Regions from separate parts of the Homo sapiens genome. Here region 2 is linked to region 1. A link means that fine-mapping ties the variant in region 1 to the expression of a gene that starts in the linked region. Tissue or cell type: subcutaneous fat. Region 1 holds a variant in brackets; the other region holds the start of a gene. All regions are shown on one strand. Distances are from middle to middle.

Evidence for each region. PIP is the estimated chance that this variant, and not a neighbour inherited with it, causes the effect.
Region 2: it holds the start of CNKSR3, and the variant in region 1 is fine-mapped to the expression of CNKSR3 in subcutaneous fat (TwinsUK, PIP 0.95).

The regions. Positions count from the first base shown.
Region 1 is chr6:154,404,993-154,415,921 of GRCh38, forward strand. CNKSR3 (CNKSR family member 3) reads right to left here. Exons shown (of 13, transcript NM_173515.4): 10 at 9,307-9,431; 11 at 5,942-6,150; 12 at 5,351-5,440; 13 at 1-1,660. The coding sequence ends at 1,362. Among named protein-coding and RNA genes, the nearest start is that of IPCEF1, 54 kb to the left of the region's middle. The variant A/T (reference allele first, on the strand shown) is at 5,783.
Region 2 is chr6:154,506,148-154,517,076 of GRCh38, forward strand. CNKSR3 (CNKSR family member 3) reads right to left here and starts at 4,538. Exons shown (of 13, transcript NM_173515.4): 1 at 3,916-4,538. The coding sequence starts at 3,967. LOC101928868 (a long non-coding RNA gene) reads left to right here and starts at 4,644. Exons shown (of 2, transcript XR_001744422.2): 1 at 4,644-4,815. RefSeq lists a cis regulatory region at 7,797-8,037.

The DNA of each region.
Region 1 (10,929 bases):
CAAACTCAACAATTCCGGTGGTATGAGAAAGGGCATTTTGGAGTAGGAGATTTCGGCTCTGCCTAGGAAGATACCTCAGAAAATTCCCCTCGTGCAATTTCACTTTGCATATGCTTCTCCTGTTCTTCCATTTCTAATCCATAAAATCCCAAAATGCTTGGGAGGGTTTATTTTGATTTTTTTTAACAATACTGCCCTGCTGGCAACAGCCACGATAGTCACTTGCTCATCTGAAAATGCCTTGCACTTTCTTTTTCACTAGCTTCGTGTATGACGCAAAACAGAAATATTTCAATTACAGGTGACTAAGAGTAAGAAAAATATACAACTATATTTAAAATACTTAAATTAACAAGATAGTACTTTTCCATTCTAACAAAATATCATACATTCAGTTTAAACAAGAGTTAATATCCAGACACACGTTTTCAAAATACCTGATGCTAGTTGAAAATTAGTGACCATGAGGCTTTCCAAGATATTTCTAATTAGCAAACTGTGTACAATTTTGAAGAAGTGTACACACCGTGCTGGAAGACAGACACTGAACAGGTCAAAATGCAAACTCATGTATCTTTCATCAACCTAAATCTTGTTGCTTCACTTTTCTAAATGATACTTTGGCTGTCAGCGAATCTTATAGCTTCTTTTCCCTTAAAGACAATAATATATAACAACACCACCCCACACAAATAACCATAAACTTCTTTGTGTGAAATAAGCCCTATCAAAATGTGTTCATGTATTTCTGTACCAACTGATCTATACTGAGACTGTCATGAAAAAGGTATCAAACAAGTGTAACAGGCCTACACTTAAACCTCTGCCTCAAAGGAGAAATCAGATACTTGCCACGTTATTGCAAAGTCAAAGCTGCTACACTTAAAATATGGTAGATAGTTTAGAAAAATCAAATCAAAAATGTTTTCTCACTGGCTTTTTCAGATAAAGAAGTTGGACCACAAACCAACACATCTGTGTGAAAACAGCCACCAATTTGAGTCCCCCCAGCCCCTCAAAAAGGAACAATGCCACCAGTCCCTCACAATGACCATAACGTCTCTGGCCAGGACTGCGATTTCTAGCGCGTGTCTTCACATTCTATCTCTGGGGAAGCAAGACAAACAGGCTCTACCCATTTCCCTCCTTTTGTCTCCACAAGCCAGCACCTAAGATCCTCTGAATTTGTTCCCATCCAATCCTGCAAACTTCCAAGAAGGGCAGTAGATAACTTTTCAAAAGAAAAAGAAATTGCATAAGGTCCCTACATAATACTGAGGCTGAAACGAGAAGAGGCTGTCCACTGTAAAAGCAAGGCACTTGGGGCAGGAGCCAGGCAGGTGGCCTGAGCAGGGTCCCTCTCAGTGAGTCAACAGTTTGAGGCGCGTAAACCAGCTGACCAGGAGGGACGGTTCTGTGGACGAGGACTTCGTAGCTGAGGAGCCAGATTTCTTTTTGGTCCCTTCCTCCTGGAATGGAATCGTGGCGCTGCTGTGGAGATCTGAGTTGATGTAGCACCTGCTTCCTCGGATGTAGTCCGCACCCCGGACCAGATGCCGCTCGGTCGTGGGTCTGGAGAACCGGTATGGGGGAGAGGAGCTCTCTTCAATGATCGGAGGAATCCGCTCGTTACTGAAATACCGGCAAAGGGCATCCTCCCCTGTTTCCAGACAAAGTCCATTAAGTCACAATCCCAGCCGGGCGTGGTGGCTCACACCTGTAATCTCCGCACTTTGGGAGGTCGAGGTGGGTGGATCACGAGGTCAAGAGATCTAGACCATCCTGGCCAACATGGTGAAACCCCGTCTCTACTGAAAATACAAAAATTAGCTGGCGTGGTGGCGGGCGCCTGTAGTCCCAGCTACTCAGAGAAACGTTTGAACCCGAGAGGCGGAGGTTGCAGTGAGCCAAGATCGCGCCACTGCACTCCAGGCTGTTGACAGAGCGAGACTCTGTCCCCTCCAGGAAAAAAAAAAAAAAATCACAATCCCCTACACAGTGCTCTTTGGAGGGCCCTCGGCCTGCCCAGACTTCTGCCACCACCCTGAATGTGGGCACCATACCTTTACTGCTCTCCTCCCTGGATTGGCCACAAGGTCCCACCTGTGGCTGGGCCCACCAATGGGTGCTCTGGAAGCAGAAATGGGAAGGGTCCCTCATACTTTAGGCTGCTTTAGCGCCTGAGAGGTAGCACACGGGTCTCCTTTAGTGGGTGGGGACCATAGAGTGTAGTGTCCCCGCGATGGCTGAACAGAACTGTTTATGCATTGTTTAATGCAGGGCATTCAAGCTGGGCATTCAGGAACATTCCCGAACAAGGAAAAGAGTGATCCTGCCCTAACTGCCAGCAGACCCCCTGGGATGTGGCTGGAATGTTAAGAAACTGAATAGAAACTTAAAATACAGTACACTTTGGTAACATGTAGCATCCTTGTGAAGCGGAAATTCTACACCCCAAAATGTGCAAAGATCTATGGACTCACGGATGCTTACTGAAACATTTATTTTTATGCTTATTTTTATTTTTTGAGACAGGGTCTCACTGTCATTCAGGCTGGAGTACAGTGGTGCCATCTCAGCTAGTTGCAGCCTCCATCTCCCAGGCTCAAGCGATCCTCCCACCTCAGCCTCCCAAGTAGCTGGGACTACAGGTGCGCACAACCACACCCAGCCGGTCTCGAAATCCTGAGACCAAGCAATCCACCTGCCTCAGCATCCCAAAGTGTTGGGATTAGAGGCATGAGCCACCACACCTAGCCTACTGAAACCTTTTTCAAATTTTAGAATTTGAATTTTAGAATTTTCTAAATTTTCTAAATTCTAAGTTTTCTAAATTTTAGAATTTAGAAAATTTTAGCCTTTTTCAAATTTTAGAATTTGAAAAAAAAAAAAAAAAAAAAAAACCTAAATTTCCAACAGTGGCACGTTGAATAAATAGGCGCTAGAGCCATAAGATGGCATTCTAATACGGCTATATTCTTTTCAAATATGGTGTAGATAATATTCATTTTTACATAGTATTATTGAATATTTACTTCTCCCCTTTTTTTGAGACGGAGTCTCACTCTGTTGCCCAGGCTGGAGTGCAATGGAGAGGTCTGGGCTCACTGAAACCTCCGCCTCCCAGGTTCAAGAGATTCTCCTGCCTCAGCCTCCCGAATAGCTGAGACTACAGGCGCCCACCACCACACCTGGCCAATTTTTGTATTTTTAGTAGAGACGGGGTTTCACCATGTTGGCCAGGCTGGTCTCGAACTGCTGACCTCGTGATCCGCCTGCCTTGGCCTCCCAAAGTGCTGGGATTACAGGTGTGAGCCACCGCACCTGGCCAACTTCTCCCATTTTGCACATTTTTCTAAGTATATAAATGTAAATACAGGAACAACTGGAAATCACACGAAACATTCACAGTGATTATTTCTTAGGTCAGAGAAACAGATTCCAGCTGAGTTTTATTTTCTCATGCCTTCCATGTTTTTCAATGTACTTGCTTTGCTTTTGTAATGAAAGGGGAACAGTCACATTGAAAAAGTGCCCATTGTCAAAAAGCCACATGTTGCATAAGTCTATTTATATGAAATGTCCAGAACAGGCAAATCCACAGAGTAGATGAGTGCCTGTCAGGGGCTGAAGAAGGACGGAATTGGGAGTGACTGCTAAAAGGCACAAGGTTTCTTTTTGGAGTGACAAAAATGTTCTGGAATAGTGGCAACTGGGGTACAACTCCGTGAATATACTAAAACCCACCTGACTGTATATTTTAAAAAGCTGAATTTCATGCAAAGAGTTATATCTCAATAAAACTGTTATTTTTTTAAGTGGCTGTGTATAGATAGATACCTTTATTCCAAAACAATCATGCAAGAAAAATATGCAAGGAGGAGTGGAGGGAACAAGTATTTTTCCATTTCCCAATTTCACACCCCATAACCCTGACACTTCATCTCTCCATGTATAAAATAAATAAAAGGCTCAACCCTGGCTCAGATGAACGGCAAGGAAGATGTTAACGTGTCTAAATCTAAACAACGGACAGCCCTGCCACCTGCTGACTGCTCCATGGATACTCACACGTTAACTAAGGGGATCCTGAATGGTAGGTACCCAGGCATCTTTCCCTTTTTCACTTTAGCATAATACAGGTGATATGGGTACTTAGGTGACAAACTTTACCAAGTCCCTAGAAAGGGTCAGGGGTCAATCAATCCCTTTGGAAGGTTAGGCTTCCAGAATTTTTTCTTCTTCCTTTTACTATCTAAAGCCTATTGTACTTTAACTTTTCAACTGCCCTTTGTTTCAACAACTGCAAAAACAATGTTATAATGTTCTGCCAATGATGACAATCAAATGCAATCTGGCAATAAAATGAGAATGTTTTAAAACATTTCACTCAAGACCAGCATAATAACCAGGGACTTTGATTACAGGGTGAATTAAACACAAATTTCTTTTCAAATAGTAACTGCCTTCTAACATAAGAAGGACTTGGAAGAAAAAAAAATCCATGTTTGTTCATCAGAAATCAAACAGACTCCAAAAATAAAAGCAACAAAATTTAGAATAAGATTGTTTAATGAAAGCTGGGCATGGTGGCACACGTCTGTAACACCAGCTATTCAGGAAGCTGAAGTGGGAGGATCACTTGAACCCAGGAGTTCAAGGCCAGCCTGGGCAACATAGTAAGACCCCATCTCAATTTTTAAAAATAAATTTTGAAAAAGATTGTTTAATGAATAATTTATTTCTATTCATTAAAAAATTAGACTATTGGCTGGGTATGGTGGCACATCCCCGTAATTCCAGCACTTTGGGAGGCTGAGGCAGGAAGACCACTTACAGCTAGGAGTTTGAGACCAGCCTGGACAACATATTGAGACTCTGTCTCTACCAAAAAAAAAAAAAAAATTAGCCAGCCGTGGTGGCGTGCACCTGTAGTCCCTGCTACTCAGGAGGCTGAGGCAGGAGGATCACTTGAGTCCAGGAGCTCAAGGCTGTAGTGAGGTATGATCACGCCACTGCACTCCAGCCTGTGTAACAGAGCAAGATCCTGTCTCTAAAAAGTAAATGAATAAAAATTAGACCATTAAAGTCTATAGCCTTTTTACAGCACTCAATGCTAATTAGGATATTTACAATCACTAACTAGGATTATATAATTTTGCCATTCTAGAAATAAGTAGGATCTTAAAGATCTTCAGCAGTCCTAATTTTACAGATGAGAAAACGGGACTCAGAAAGGCCAAGTACTCAGTCTACTTATTATAACACATTTAGAAACAGAGGTGAAACCAGGCCCTGGGGCTGTTCACTCCCCATTTGCTGTTCCTTGGTTTGCTTGGATGAAACGTACCTTTCCTGCCATGACCTCGAGGTCTGGCAAAAGGGTCCACAATCCCCATCCAGTTCCCATCAGCAGGCATGGACAAAGGCCGTGGCTTGCCTTCAGAGGGACGAGAAAGAAGGTGACAAGTTTGATGAGTTCTGGAACTTTAGTGAACCGTTCCCTTTATGTATAACTTAGACCTCACAATACCACACCCACTTAGACAGAAGCAATAACAAATTTTAAAATAAAAGTATTTTAAAGCACTGTATTTCCATAGCAGGAAATAGAGTGCTACTAAGATAGAGGCACATTAAACTTGAGCCTGTGAGTCTACAGAGCAAAGCAACTCCAAAGCTAAAACCCAGGCACTGAAAGTTAAAACTGTAACATGATCTCACCCAGTTGGGCTTTCATGCCAGGCAGAGTAATGACTCAACAAGGATCCGCTTGACAGAG[A/T]TGAATAAAGGTCTCATACTTAGAATTTCATTGAGGTTTATGTTTTCCTCAGATTACTCTTGAAGTCTGCCAAATTCATCCAACAGTTCCAACTAAGGCAGGGGGCGGGGAGGAGAAGTCAAGGCCAACGGCAGAACAAAACAAACACTTGAAACTTACCATAAGATGGTGTTTTCTCTCTCATTTTTGTGGGCAGAATGTTGGTTTCCACCGAGTACCCAGGCAACTGATCCGAGTCTGCAATGGTGAATCTTCGTCTCCGGCTTTCCTGGTCCAAGAAGGAATTCGGGGACTCTGAACCCTTAGGACCAGGCAATGGTTGTTTGCACTTACTGGACCCTCCATAAACAAAACTGCCATTCTCATCCCTGGAAGATAATATGGACAATAATTAAGTTGTTTACAAAGATGTTCTCATACTGAAGAATTCCAGCAGTGCTGCTACCTCCAGCACACAGAAGATAATTTAAATTCTCCTTTTCCACTGGAGGAAAAGCATTCCTTTTGTCAACCCCAGTTGCCGCTCAAATACATACAGATCCTATTAAATAAGCAAAATACCATGACGTGATGAAATAAGAATAAATGCAGGCCGGACACAGCGGCTCCCGCCTGTAATCCCAGCACTTTGGGAGGCCAAGGCAGGTGGATCACCTGAGGTCAGGAGTTCAAGACCAGCCTGACAAACAAGGTGAAACCCCATCTCTACTAAAAATACAAAAATTAGCCAGGTGTGGTGGCAGGAGCTACTTGGGAGACTGAGGCAGGAGAAGTGCTTGAACCCAGGAGGCGGAGGTTACAGTGAGCTGAGATCATGCCACTGCACTCCAGCCTGGGCAATGGAGCGAGACTCCATCTCAAAAAAAAAAAAAAAAAAAAAGAAGAGTAAATGCAGGGTTTTTTTTAATATCCAAACAAATATAGCTTTGAAAAGACAGCTCTAGTTTTCCTGTGCTTCTGTGTGTAGCTGAATATCCTATTTACTACAGCAATCACACATTAAGGTATGCTCTAGCGAACCACGTTGCTCATGCCAAGAGTCGGATCTCTGCCAAAATCCAGCAAAAAAGACTTGATATATTATGAAGTTGTTAGATTTGAAAACCATGTCAAAAGATACAAAGGAACCTTTATAGTAACCAATGGAGAGTGATTCTTTTCTGAATCAAATACTACAAAAACCAGCAAAAGTTGGATCACTGATTCCATTCTAATTCTATCTACATGTCAGTTTAAACTGTAGGATTAATTTGAGTCCAAGTTACCAGCTGCTTAGTTTTTTTGCACTTGGTAAATTCCATTAGGCAAATCAGGACAAAAACTGCTAGACAAAATACAGAATCAACTGAGTCCCAAAGCAATCTACTAATCAGCCATGTCTGTGTGTGGTATTCCCAGGTGGGATGGCATCCACCTACCCCTCCCACCCACAAATATATCTCCTTCCATACCTTTAAACCGGGCATATAACTCCCCATTCACAAAGCTTTCATGACTCATGACTTGTTTCTCAGTAATCCATTCCCATTTTTCATTCCTCAGAAAATCCTTCATGAGTGGTGTGTGTGCACTCTCAAAAGCGTCTTCCCGAGCAGTTTAATCCAGCTCTCCTCCTAGCCCCAGGTTCCTTTATCTCTCACTATGTACACAGCACCCCTTTTCTTGCCACTACTCCAGGAACCCAGACAAGAATATTCTGGATCAAGGGAGGGTGCCTTCCTCCAGTTTCTGATAGAACAATCCACACATTAGTAGTGGAATGTCATGCTCTCTATATGCAGAGGGAAAGACTACCTGTAACTTTAAACACACTTAAGATCCTGCAAACCAGAATGCCCCGATCACCTGAGGTACATTCTCTACACGCTATAATAAGTTCTGAGTAAGCCAAGACTCAAGGAAATGGAAAACAATGTTGAATCTCTGCACCCAATGCAGAAGAAATACAATGAAGCAAATACCTCAGCTTCAAATGAAAACCAACAAACAAAAAATTCTGATAGAAAGTAAAATGTCACTGTAATAAAATCCAGCCTGAACTTTGTTTTATGAAATATTATAACCTAATCATATATTTCTCAATATATGCTTGAATTGTTGAATAAGACCCTGGCAGTTCTGTAGGGTCAAAGACCGAGTCTGTTTTGTGTCAGAGGGTAACCCAGACCCAATACTCAGGAAAGATATGCTGAATAAATGAGCCAGATTGTCTAGTTTTATCAACATATATAAATATGTGAGTTGATAAAAATAAGCCTAGATCACACCTAAATCATCCTGTACACTCTATATACCACCCTCATTATACCATACAGTATTCAAGTTAGCCATGAAGAAAGCAACTATCTTTTTAAGAATTTATGGTACACACACACACACACACACACACACACACACACACAAATATGAAATGTTCATACCTACACTCACAAGGTCTGAGTTTTTCTGTTTTTTGTTTTTTTGTTTTTGAGACTAGGTCTCACTCTGTTGTCCAGGCTGGAGTGCAGTGGTATGATCATGGTGTATTGTACTGCAGCCTCGACCTCCTGGGCTCCAGTGATCCTACCACCTCAGCCTCCTGAGTAGCTAGGACCACGGGTGCACACAACCACACCCAGCTAATTTTTTAAATTTTTTGTAGAGATGGGGCCTCACTATATTCCCCAGGCTGGTCTTGAACTTCTGGGCTCAAGCAATCCTCTGAACTGGCCTTCCAAAGTGCTGGAAATATTGGCGTGAGACACCATACCTGGCCACATAGGTTTTTTTTCAAGTTCTATGAAGAACACATCTTTCTCAGCAAAATCAAGCTGCAACTCTCATTAATCTCACAGAAATACTTATTATCTACCCCCTCAAGATGAATTTACCATGGAGTTAATGAAACTTAACCTGCAGGGCCCCCAATAGACCCTTCCAAGGCCCCAGGAGAGCACGTTTTCATTCGTTTTTCAAAAGTAAGGTATTGCTATATCCTTTTGTTTCTTTTTTGAGACAGGGTCTCGCTCTGTCACCCAGGCTGGATTGCAATGGCACAAACTCTGCTCACTGCAACCTCCACCTCCTAGGCTCAAGCGATTTTCCTGCCTCAACCTCCTGAGTAGCTGGGACTACAGGCATCTGCCACCAAACTCAGCTAATTTTTGTATTTTTTTATAGAGATGAGGTTTTACCATGTTGCCCAGGCTGGTCTTGAACTCCTGAGCTCAAGTGATCTGCCCGCCTCAGCCACCCAAAGTGCTGGGATTACAGGTGTGAGCGACCACACCTGGCCAATACTGCCATATTCTTTTCTCAGAAGGGCCCTCCCCACCAAACTGTATAGCTTCAAGCCCCACAGAACCCAGATATGTCCCTACACTCCTATAAAATAAGGCTGATCATACTTTTAACGGCAGTTCAAGATTCAGCCCTGTCACACTGTGGCTCAGCAACTTCCTCTCTCAAGATCCTCTTTTCACACCACCATTTACAAATGACACCAACAGGAGACAAGCATACCATGACAATGGACAGCAACATACCGGGGAGAGTAGGGAACAGCAGGCGGAGGAGGAATATAAAGATCCAGGATGGCTGACTTCTCCTTCTTCAGTGAGGTATCCATAGTGCTTTCAGGGGACTGGGTTGTCGCGGGTGGAGGTGAGGTCTGAAACAGGAGTAACACAGCAATGCAAAGAGTGGAGATCAATTCAGAGATGATTCTTGGTGTTTATTTCCCCTCCCCCAAACCAACACCAACCCCGTGTCTGAACAGGGACTGAGGTCATTCATGTGTTTACAGATATTGGCAATATTTAACTTACATTCTTCTTTGAAACCTTAGAATGAGCTGAGGGATTTGAATGACGATGTATAGTGGCAAGAAGCAGAGGCTTAGGAGCCAGGTGCCAGGGTTATGACTCTAGCTCTGAGCAAATCACTTAAACATCTGTGGCCTCCCTTTCCTCTTCTGTAAAGGAGTGATACTGATAATATCTCTTGCATAGAGCTGCAGTGAGAATTAGATGAGTTAGTTCATGAAAATTACTAGCAAGGCTGGGCACGGCGGTTCTTGCCTGTTACCCCAGCACTTTGGGAGGCCAAGGTGGACAATGGATTGCTTGAGCTCAGGACTTCGAGACCAGCCTGGGCAACATGGCGATACCCAGTCCCTACGAAAAAAATATAAAAATTAGCCAGGCGTGGTGGCACACGCCTGTAGTCCCAGCTACTTGGGATGATGAGATGGGAGGATTGCTTGAGCCCAGGAGGCAGAAGTTGCAGTGAGCGAAGAGTGTACCACTGCACTCCAGCCTGGGTAACAGAGTGAGACTCTGTCTCAAAAAAAAAAAAAAAAAAAAAAAAACAAGAAAGAAAAGAAAAGAAAAAGCAATCAGTAGCAGTGCTACTATTGACTAGGAGTATTGCTTGGAACTCTGGATGTGATCCTGGCTAGACTTACTAGCTGCCCATTTTTTTTTTTTTTTTTTTTAAGATGGAGTCTGCCTCTGTCTCCCAGGCTGGAGCACAGTGGCGCCATCTTGGCTCACTGCAACCTGTGCCTCCTGGGTTCAAGTGATTCTCCTACCTCAGCCTCCCAAGTAGCTGGGATTACAGGTGCGTGCCACCACACCCAGCTAATTTTTGTATGTTTAGTAGAGATGGCGTTTTGCCATGTTGGCCAGGCTGGTCTCAAACTCCTGACCACAGGTGATCCGCCCACCTCAGCCTCCCAAAGTGCTGGGATTACAGGTGTGAACCACCACGCACAGCCCTTATTAGCTGTTTATTGTTGAGCAAGTCACACAATGTCTCTGTGCCCCATCTATAAAATGAGAATAAATAGGGACAAGGATAGCACCAACATAGGGTGGCTGTGAGAATTAAGTAAGGTAACACATGTAAACAACTTAGGACACTGCTTTCCCATAGAAAATACACAACCTTATACCGTTTATTTTAGTACTATTTATACATATATGCATTCATATATACGAGTTAATCTTAACTTCAAATCCACATGGCTGAGTTTGAACTATGATACTGGTCTCAAAGGACATGGTTTTTAATATCTCATGTGAGAACTTCAATCTTACCTTCTACAATCTAACAATGACAACAATGATTTTTCTGGTTGGTAAAGAACAGCAAGGAAATCTTGGAGT
Region 2 (10,929 bases), 100 kb after region 1:
GTTGCCTGCCTACCAATATCTATTCTCCCCTTTTTCCTTTCTGACCAAACTCCAAGTTTTTTTCAGGGCCACAATGTACCAAACTTAAAAAAAAAGAAAGGAAGGGAAAAAGCAAAAAAGGAAGAAGAAATGAAAAGGAAAAGAAAGGAAAAGAGAGGAAAGGGGAGGAAGGAGGTAGTGAGGGAGGGAGGAAAGAGAAAGAAGAAAAGAAACAAAAGAAGGAAAAAGAAAGAAATTACAGCAACCAGCCTTCCCTGCTGCATGAGGTGGCCATGTGACATTTCTGGCACCTGAGATGTAAACCAGGTCACTTGACAGTTTTTCAAAGAACTCTTTAAAGGGGAAGACTTGGCTGCTACCTGTCTTCTGTCTTCCATGAGACTCCCTTCTGCCTGGAATAGGAAGACAATCATGCAGGAGCCGCCACCTTGCACTGAAGCATTAAGTATGAAAATGAACACCATGTGCCAGGCCATACCCTACGCCATGTGCTACGAATGGCTGAACAAGATGGCAGCGCCATGGAACCCCAATTTGGTTAACCCACTGGGTTTTCTGTTATGTGCGGCTAACCCTACACGTTGTAAAAGATCATTTGCTTTGCAAAGGCCTTTACTGAACTGACTGGCAAGGCGCCATGAACTAGGAATTAATTTGACTTACAAATAACTTTCTGACATGAACTAAAGATAGAGAATAACACAGACATATACTGGATGAGACTCCTCCGCTACCATATGCTATTCAGACCGAATCCTGAAGTTCTATTCATAAATGTAAAGATTGTCGGTGTGGTCTAGATGTGGCCTTGGGAAGAAACTCCTGAGAAAATGGAGTGGAGTGAAGCCAAACCACCTGCTCTGCTGGGTGACATCGGTCAATCTGTGTGTGACTCGGTTTCCTCAACTGCAAAATGGAAATAACTGTTCCTACCTCAAAGGTGGTGGTGCCTATTAAATGAGCTGATATTTGTACAATGCTTAGACATGTGCCTGACACACTGCTTAATAATTACTGAGGATCCACTAACATTACGGTAAAATTGGTGACAGTGTAGCTAAACATTAATAATAAAAGCCAGACAGGTTAATTCATTCTGTAGACAAGAACTTCTTTCCTAAGGCACACATCTGTCAAATAACAAGGAGGTGAGATCCAGCTGTCGACTGTGGCCAGGTTTAGACAGTTTTAAATCTAAGGCCTTCTATGGTTCTCATAATCGCCCTACCCAGATTCATGCAATACCAAGAGTAGCAAAGTCTACATGAAGAGCTGCTTATCAGTAGCATGTATTTATAAAATAAAGGTTGGGTAAAGAGATTAGCAAAGAGCACTAAAAATAGTCCTATAAGCAGACGAGCTTTTGTAAGTCGATAGTTCATTAAAAAGTCAATACTTGAGCATCATTATTATGAGAAATATTCAAGTAATGGGTCACGCAACTTGGAAGATTGCAGCCTCTTATCATCTTAGCCATCTTTTTTAGATTCGAACACAGAACGTATCCAGGTCTTTCTACTAAGCTGTATTTCAGGGTCCAAAAGGGCACAGGCATTTTGTATAACGTAGTCAAGTGCCAACCACAGGTATGTAACCTAGTAAGTATCGTAGGTATTGAGCCAGCCATAGATGTTCTTTCAGGTCAGGAGAAAACTTTTCCTAGATGAAAGTAACTCAACTAACTGATAACGTCAAGGCAACTGGCTAACAAAAACGTTTTAATCTACTTTCCCTTTTAAATACTCAACAAACATAACAGGATGTGATTTTACGCTTCTCCTTTTCCAATCCCAAGAGGGACAAAAACAACAACAACAACAACAACAAAACCAGACACAAATCTTGAGGGTGTGAAGATCTCACTCCATAATCTTCCTGTGCGCCTGTTACCATTTTTCTGATTGTACATTATCAACTAAGCTGGCAGAGGCTCAGAAAAGCCAGGGTGATAAGATGTAACCCTTTCTTTCTGCTACAGCAGAACTGTCCAATAGAAATATAATGGAAGCCACAAATGTGAGCCCTGTGTTATTTTAGATTTTCTAGGAGACATATGTAAGAAGGTAAAAATAAACAGGTGAAGCTTATTTTAGTAATATATTTTATTTAACCTAACGTATCAAAATACTATCATTTCCACATGTAATAAAAAGTATTAAGATATTTCATGTTCTTTTTTTTCATACCAAGTCTTCAAATGCCATGTGTATTTTAGACTTACAGCACATTGCAATTCTAACCAGCCACATTTCAAGGGCTGCAGAGCCACAAGTGGTACTGGTTACTAAGTTGGACAGAGCGGCTCTAGAAGTCAACAGTAGCTGAAATTTGCAGTGTCTCAAGTTGGCTCTATGAGGGACATACAGATAAAATACATATCAACTCAGTTTCAGGAAGCTGCCAGCCTAGGGAATTTGGCAGCATCTTGAATGGAGGAACACACCTCATTTCAAGCTAGCGTGGGCATGGATGGCTTTTAAGCTCATGCTTCCTACCAAGTACTGGCAATGCCACTTACTCTTTACCAAGGGAAACCTAGTCACCAAGGCAGAAACATGTGTTGTTTTTAGCTTCATTTTATATAGGAGTCCAGGAAATTCTGCTCACTTGACAAACCCGTTCTCAAGGAGTTCTCCCAGAGGAGCAGGAAATGGTCAGACATACCCACTGACACACCCCACACACCTCGGACATCCTATTCCACGTGGTCTATGTGTAAGTCACAGGCGTGAGAAATGAGATGTAGCGGTGATCAGTTTTCATTATGCTGCAGCCATGGGTGGGACGGTTTGAAAGACGACCTGGTCTTACCAGTATTACCTACCTCACAGGCTTACTGTGATGACCAAGGACAATAACAGAGAGAGCTCTTAGCAAACTGTAAAGCGCTACACAATTCTAGTTATTACTGAGAAAGAACACCATTCCTCACCTGGAAGAGCAGATAGAAAAACAAATAGTAACTTGAAACAGAGATGTCGTTGGGGGTGGGGGGAAACCATGAAAATACAGATTGTTCTTGGTGGACTTTGTTCTCTTGAAAGTACAGAAAAGGGTTGAGTAAACTCTAGTACCTTTCCCTCGAAATCGTAGGAGACATTGAAAAGTAAGCGAGCCAGCTAGGAGGACAAGCTTCTACCTCTGCTCATTCCCCCCACCACCCCCCCACCGCCCCAGCCCCACTGCCTTCCTCATCCCAAATATTGTATGAATCAAGACAGTGGTTCCAAACAATTATATTTCTCCTTCCCAGTGCTTACATGTGGCCTGAAAATGCAGCGCCACCGGGGATACTGGCGCCTCCCGGAGCAAAAGTCACTGCCTCCCGGGGAGTCCTGGCTCGAGGTTTCTCCCTGGCGCAAATGCTATGGTGTTGGCTTTTGCGCGGCCCTCTCGCCTTCTCCAACAAAAACAGACAGGCTCGGCGGACCCGCCGGAGTCTCCCTCTACCTGTCCGACAGCCCTGTCACGCCTGCGGACGGCTCTGGGCAGGCGGCATGGACGAGGTCCCGCGGGAGTCACCCACACAAAGGCACCTTGTGCCTCTGCACTCGGGCCCCCGGGTCGCCGGGCACCGCACCGGGGCCAGGCAGGGAGAGCGCCCCCCGGCCCGAGTGCCGAGTCCCGAGATCGGCATCCCCAGCCCTCAACCGCCACAGAAAGGCCACCCCTACTCCCTGGTTTAAAGATAGGGCTCCCCTCGGCTTGCCACAATCCGCACCCTGGAAAGGAAGAGCTCGGAGCAGGTACGAGAGATAGGAGCGCACAGGCCACTCGGCAGAAGTTTGCATTGTCACCGGGCTGTGCCCTCACCGCTTCTCGCCGGGAGGAAGGGCCAAGTACCCTCTTCCCCAGCTCCTCGTCCGCCCCATCCCCGAGGCTGGAGGACTCCGGACCCCCCCAAGGCCCGCGCACCTCTAGTCCAGTCCACCACTTGTTTGGGGCTCCACTTGGTCACGGGTTCCATGGTAAACCGCTTCGCCTCTCGCTGGGCTGGAGAGTCGCAGATAAAGTGCTGCTGCCTGCGCTCCGGTGCCCCTTCCCGGGAGGGCGCGCCCGCGGCTGCTCCCCTGCGCCCGAGCGACTCCGTCAAGACTGCATGGCCGCGGTCAGCCAGTCGTCCCAGCGCGGCTCCGCCAGGGGAGCCCGGCCCTCTCCCTCCAGCTGCCACAGTCCAGCTGCAGCTCCTCCTTCCCCCGCCGCCGCCGGGATCCCGGGCACAGCTGCTGCTCCCGAGCGACGGCAGCTGCAGGCACGCCGGGCTGCGACCCCAGACCCCTGGCCTCGGCTCGGCACGGGAGCCTCCCGGCCCGCGACCACTTCCTCGGATCTCTCGAGGCGCGATCGGCTCTCCCTCGGCCGGTCTTCTCGCCTGCTGGCTCTCCGGGGTCCCCGCTCCGCGTGCGCTGGCGTCCCGGAGCCTTCCCGGCGCAGGTCCCACCTCCTGCGCCGCCCTCCCGTGCCGCCCTGGCAGGGCCGAGCGCAGAGCGTGCGCGCTCGGGTTGCAAAGTTTCAGCTCCGGTTGCTGCAAACCGAATAAAAGAGAGGGCGGGGCCGAGGGTCTAGGGAAACTCGTGGGAGGGGGCGGGTCCGCCCGAAGCGGCGGACTCGGGTTACTTTCCCTCTCTAAGCCGGTCCGGCTCACACCCGCAGCGTCCCGGGCCCCGCTTTCCTTTTCAAGGGGCGGGTTGTAGATCGCGCGCGCACCCTGGAGAGCCCGCTGGTTTGTGTGAGGCCCTGGCCCTGTGGGTAGCAGAACACTCTGTCTCGCTGTGAGCAACAATACACTAAAAAAAAAAGAAAAGAAAAAAAAAAGTAAGATCTGCATGTTCTGTTCATTTTAAATGCTTTATATCGTAATACTACTCTGCCATTAAGCCGTCATTTTAGGTTTCTTAAAGTAGAACAATTTTTTTTTTTAGATGGAGCCTCGCTCTGTCGCCCAGGCTGGAGTGCAGTGGCGCGATCTCAGCTCACTGCAGCCTCTGCCTCCCAGGTTCCAGCGATTCTCCCGCCTCAGCCTCCGGAGTAGCTGGGATTACAGGCGTCTGCCACTACGCCCGGCTAATTTTTGTATTTTTAGTAGAGACAGGGTTTCACCATGTTGGCCAGACTGGTCTCGAAATCCTGAACTCAGGTGATCCGCCAGCCTCGGCCTCCCGAAGTGCTAGGATTACAGGCCTGAGCCACCGCGCCAGGCCAGAACAATTTTATTTCATTTATATGTTGACTGAAATCGTAACAATGTAACTCTTTTAATGCTATTGCTATGAAATTTCAACTTTGCGACTAAAATTAGATTGATGGCTTTTAGCGTTATATTTTGCTATATTATAATTTCATATTTACAGAGTGAGCTAATGCTCCTTGGGATTAGTCATTAACCGTGAGAGGAAAGCTGTTAGCCAAGAAAAAAAAAATAGCTCGTGCACAATTTCAGCGCCTGGCAGGGGAGGGCCCTTCCACATTCATGGACTGCAACTGGGGCCAGAGTTAATGCTAAACTGGGGGAAAATCTAATTTGAATGCCTGCCTCTCCTTCAAGTTCTCCCTGCATCCTAACCGCCCCCCCAACCCCTGCCACCCTCGCCACCACCCCTCCCCTCACCCCCCAACACCCCCCCCAACCCCCCACCCCCGCCCCGCCCCGCCCAGCAACCTCTTCCTCCCACTCTTTTTGGCACTGAATGATTCTTACTTTCAATTACGGTTATTTATTTACATCTTCCTCTTGGAGACTATTAACCCCTTGAGGGCAGAACCTACTTGATCTCATATAGAGTTTTCTCTCCTCCCTTTCTTCCTACCACCTAACTTGTAGCACCCAGCACGGGACCAAAGGCAAGGTTGGTATTTATTCATTCAGTAAATATCCGGGAATGCTTCCTATGTGCCAGCCACTGTATTCATTCAGTATTTGTTGAATTCGTGTGATATGTGCTACTTACACAGGTCTGTTTGGACGCACATGTGGAAAAATAGCTAGCAGCCAGCCTAGCATCTGATGAGCTGGAGCATCCAAGCAAAAGAAACATTTTTAAAAAGCAAAACATCAGACCCACCTCCCATTCAACTCCCCTAGAGGACTGGGCAACACAGAGACACACAACTATCAAATATAGTGATTCTTTTTCTTCATCTAGCGAAAGTGACTGGCAGACCACACAAGTTGGCAAAGGCAATGACAAAATTCCTGATATAGTAGTTGTCCTTAAAAAAAAAAAAAGACCTTTAAACTTAATGACATCCAGCATTAACCATCTTTACAGCAGTCAGCAGAGAGAAGGACCTTGACACTGGTTCACTGGAAAGGGTAACCAACCTGATGCACACCTTTTGTTTCAGCAATCACTGCCTGTTGTGTGATTTCTGATTATGATTAGGGTGACCACATAACTTACCTCCAAATCAAAATATTCTTGAGCATGAAAGAAGCAACTATCAAGAATTACATTGGAATAACATGAATAAACTGGGCCATACGGTCCCCACAATTATAAAAGAAAGGTCAAATATTAATGATTTTGCCGTGGAATTTTACTTGATGTTTTCACGTCTTCAGATTCATTGGCAGTAGTCTTTACCAGAAGAGCTAAAACACTAAAATTCTGCGAGTCAAGCAAGAGTTTGCAAAACATCCCACGGAGCCAACACACTATCTATACTTGGTACATAAATACAGCATAGCTAAAGAGGAAGGCCACGCTAAGATCTCTAACCCGGAAGACCAATTAACTATCTAAATGAATTAGCATTCTGTTTACACTTCAACTTCTGGAAGCTAATTACTATTTAAATAAAGCCTTCTACCTTAATTACAGCTGTTAGCACGTGAAAGTTTTAGGGAGGCCTGCCTTCCTAGCTGAAATGCAAACTTGAGGACATACAAAGCTATTAATGGCATACAAAGCTAATAAAGGCAGAATCTTAAGTAAATGGCTTTAAAAATTAAGTATATATAAAAGGATAATTTGTAAATTTGCTAACTTTTCTTCTCTGCTAGCTAAAATCTGTAGCTATTACACCATATGTTCACGCACATTACCAAACTGCAGCTATGCCATCTTCCAGATCAGAACTCTTCATTTGTGTCTTAATGTTTACTACAATTCCTCGCACATACAAGGAGTTCAATAAGCCTTTTTAAAATTGAATTAATATGTAGAACAGATACTAGAACCCAGATCTTCTAGATTTCTTTCCAGCTCTTCCGTTTTTCTGACTTTGACCCTTCTTGCATGTTTAAGTCATTTATTCAGTTGATGAAATACGTATTAGGTACTCACTAAACTAAGCACTAGGAGGATTCAGAAATGATGAGTAGCCTTTTAGATCAAAAACACCATGTGACTTTCTAAAGGTGGATTTCTTCTGTAGTCTTTCATCCAAGGAAAGTGACCTGGTAAATAAACACAAACAAGGGAGTTCGAGGACCAATGTGATATTAACGTTTTAAGCTTGTTCAAAATTTATTACTTCTTTATGTGAGAGCAAGGGATGGAGTATTTTGGATTGGTGGTTATACCTATAATTTGATAAACACAGAGGAGCAAATTAAGCAAACTTTTAAGCAAATTATTAATCTGCAAAAAGCCAGTCTCCTTCCCCAGTTAAAAACAATGTAATGTTTTCCAGAATAAAAGAAAGAAAGAAAGCAAGTTGCTCTAAATATTCAACTTTATTTCGCAATCTGAGGTTCTTCTCTTATTTTCTTTCCCTCACATTTCTTTTTAACTATTTTCAGAAAATTCAAAATTATTTAATTTTTTCACATATAATTGTCTCGTGTATGTTCTTAAGTTATCTTTTATCTTGAGAGATACCAAAAACGTCTGCAGTTTTCTGCCTGGAAAATATCCTACAGTTAGAGCTAAGCATTCTTATCTATGACATTACATCAGTGCAAAGTCATCACTGGTTAACTAAATTATCCAGACTGCTCATGTTCTTGTCTTTCATTTAATTCCATTTGGTCTGAATTCTTCACACCACGGTAATGTAGTTATCTCCCTGAACATGCCAGGTTCCCTATCAGATAATTCAGGTAGTAAAGACTTCAAACTTTATTATATTTTATTTTTCAAGTGCTGCCTCACTTATTCAAATTCTTCTGATCATTCAGGAACGTTAAGTCATTCTACAGTTGGAAAGCTGGTATTTGGCTTTCTTTTACTGAGCCCTATCTCTAACTCAAAGATCAATGTCAATTAGATAAATATTCAAAAACCTCACCTACTTTAAATCATACTTGGAAAAGTTGATTAATCTTTTCTAATAAAAAGAGAAACATTGATGTTGCTAAATTCTATTTTCAAGGCCTTATCGTTGTACCTTGGAAGAGTTGATAGATGAGGCAGTACCCACAAAAGAACTGGATGTCCTTGCCCTGAAGTGCAGAAGCTACTAACGAAGGAGGGTGCCACAGACAAAGAGGGAACAATCAAGCCTGCATTTTTTCCTGTGGATTTTTATTACTTTTTGTACCCCCTATCGAGTTGCAGATTATCCAAAAAGAACAGAATGCCATTTACACCAGCTGTTCTTACAGTTCCAATTTAACTTTATGGGACTCATAATCTCAGAACAAGTCAATATAATACCAAGAGTTTCAGACTCGGTGATTTTTGCTTCAATCATAAATTCTATGCTGATAAGGACAAAGTCTCAGGGTGAAAAAAGATTAATGAACATCACTCTAAACCTAAAAATAAAACAATAATTAAGTTAGGCAATGTAAAAATATAACATTTGGAAATAAAACGCAGATTTGGCCGGGGTTGGTGGCTCATGCTTGTAATCCCAGCACTTTGGGAAGCCAAGGCGGGTGGATCACTTGAGGCCAGGTGTTTGAGACCAGCCCGACCAACATGGTGAAACCCCATCTCTTATTAAAAATACAAAAATTAGCTGGGTGTGGTGGTGGGTGCCTATATTCCCAGCTACCCAGGAAGCTGAGGCAGGAGAATCCCTTGAACTCGGGAGGCAGGAGAATCCCTTGAACTCGGGAGGCAGAAGTTGCAATGAGTCAAGATCATGCCACTGCACTCCAGCCTGGGTGACAAGAGTGAAACTCTGTCTCAAAAAAAAAAAAAGAAAGAAAGAGAAAGGAAGAAAGAAAGAAAGAAGAGAGAGAGAGAAAGAAAGAAAGAGAGAAAGAAAGAAAGAGCAGGTTTGAGTATCCTAAACGCACTAAGCTAAAATTTTTTAAAATCTCTACAATGTTAACAAGAACATAAAAATAGTTTATATATTGTTTTATGTATTCAAGACACTTCTAGTAAAAATAAATAATAACAATTTAAAAATATGTATTGTTTTATATTTTTCTAACTTCAGTTTGGCATAACAAATATTTAATAATCCTGTTTCAAATAAAATAGAAATATATACCCAAATGCCCCAGACTATAACTAAGGAGCTTTAATTAACTTTGAGCTCAGTCTAAAAGTTGTCTGCTCTTCCATTACTTAGCTACCATTCCATACAGAGGAGGAGACTTTCTTCTAGTTTCAACCTACCAAAGGTATTTAAATTCTGCAGCCATTGCTAATCAACACATCCAGATTTTTACTAAAGGCACATATATGTTTCCCCTTTGGGATCCTTAGACATTTGAGCCTGTAACAGGAGACTATTCCTTAATTTTCCACAACTAGCTCCTTGCATTTGGAAATACTATAACCATTTGGGATGGGAGAGCGGTGGAAAGAAAAAGAACGTAGAAAAGCAGGAAGTGTTTCAGTCTACTTCAACATCAAAAGGGAAAGGATGAAAATTAATACCAATCAGGGTTTCCTGTAGGCAGTCAGATGATTTCATAGGATTTTGAGAACACTCCCAAAGGTCTCATAGAACAGGAAAACTCACACTTACTGCCAAAAAGTCAGCAAAGTGATTGTTGAAATCCACAACCAGCTCACAAATGATAGCGACAGTCATTGTTTTACAGTAATTGTTTTAATACATGCGCATTCCATTCTGGGAAAACTCCCAGATCAAATCTCTTTTTCCGTTCGAGTTCTGTATAACTTTTGCTTTTGGTTACAAAGGAATGGGCTTCTATCCGTTTCTTTTCCACTTTTTTTCCCATTCTCCTGGGCCTAGTCCCAGAGAAACAGCTGGAGTAACAGGCAGGTGGCAAGAGGGATTTCAGAAGCTGGAGGAGCCTCAGTTTAGGGAGCCACAGAAAGCCCTTGGGTGGTTAAACCAGTGTTACCTGAGTCCAAGGAAATCTCTGCTGCTAGTGGAGAGAACCCAAGGGAGAACCTGAATAACACTGGGAAATTAAGGCCACAGACTTCACTTCTGTCCTGCTCCAAGTTACATCCCCTGGGTGTACCGCTCAGCGGCCAGCCAGATGGAGTATGGGGTTTCTATCTATTTAATATTTCTCCTAGCACGAAAGGACAAGAGACATAGGGCCCACTTCATAAAGCACCTTCTTAAGGTTTAAGAAGGACAGGAATACAAATGCAATGCTGGTCTCACCTGGGAGGACCACGCAGTGCCATCGAAGGGGCCAAGTGTGCCAACTGTGTCACTCCTTTTCCAGAGTCACCTCCTCTGCCTTTGCGTCCATGTCTTCTTGTGAGATAACTTCATTTCCACTAAAGTGCTGGCCTAAGATTTCCCTTTTCTTGGAAAATTCATGTTTCCAAGAGGAACACTTCGCGATCCCAACTAACTTTATTATCCCAATCTCTTACCCAGTTTATAACTGGCCCTGTAACCTTGAGCAAGTCAGCTTCTTTGGGTGGAAAGGAACATTAAGGATCCTTCTAGCTGTAACATTCTCTTTTCTAATATTGAGATATCAGTTGTTGAGGGCAGCTAAGGAAGGGGATTTTATTTATTTATTTATTTATTTGTTTATTTATTTTGAGAGGGCTCTGTCACCCAGGCTGGAGTGCAGTGGCATGATCATGGCTT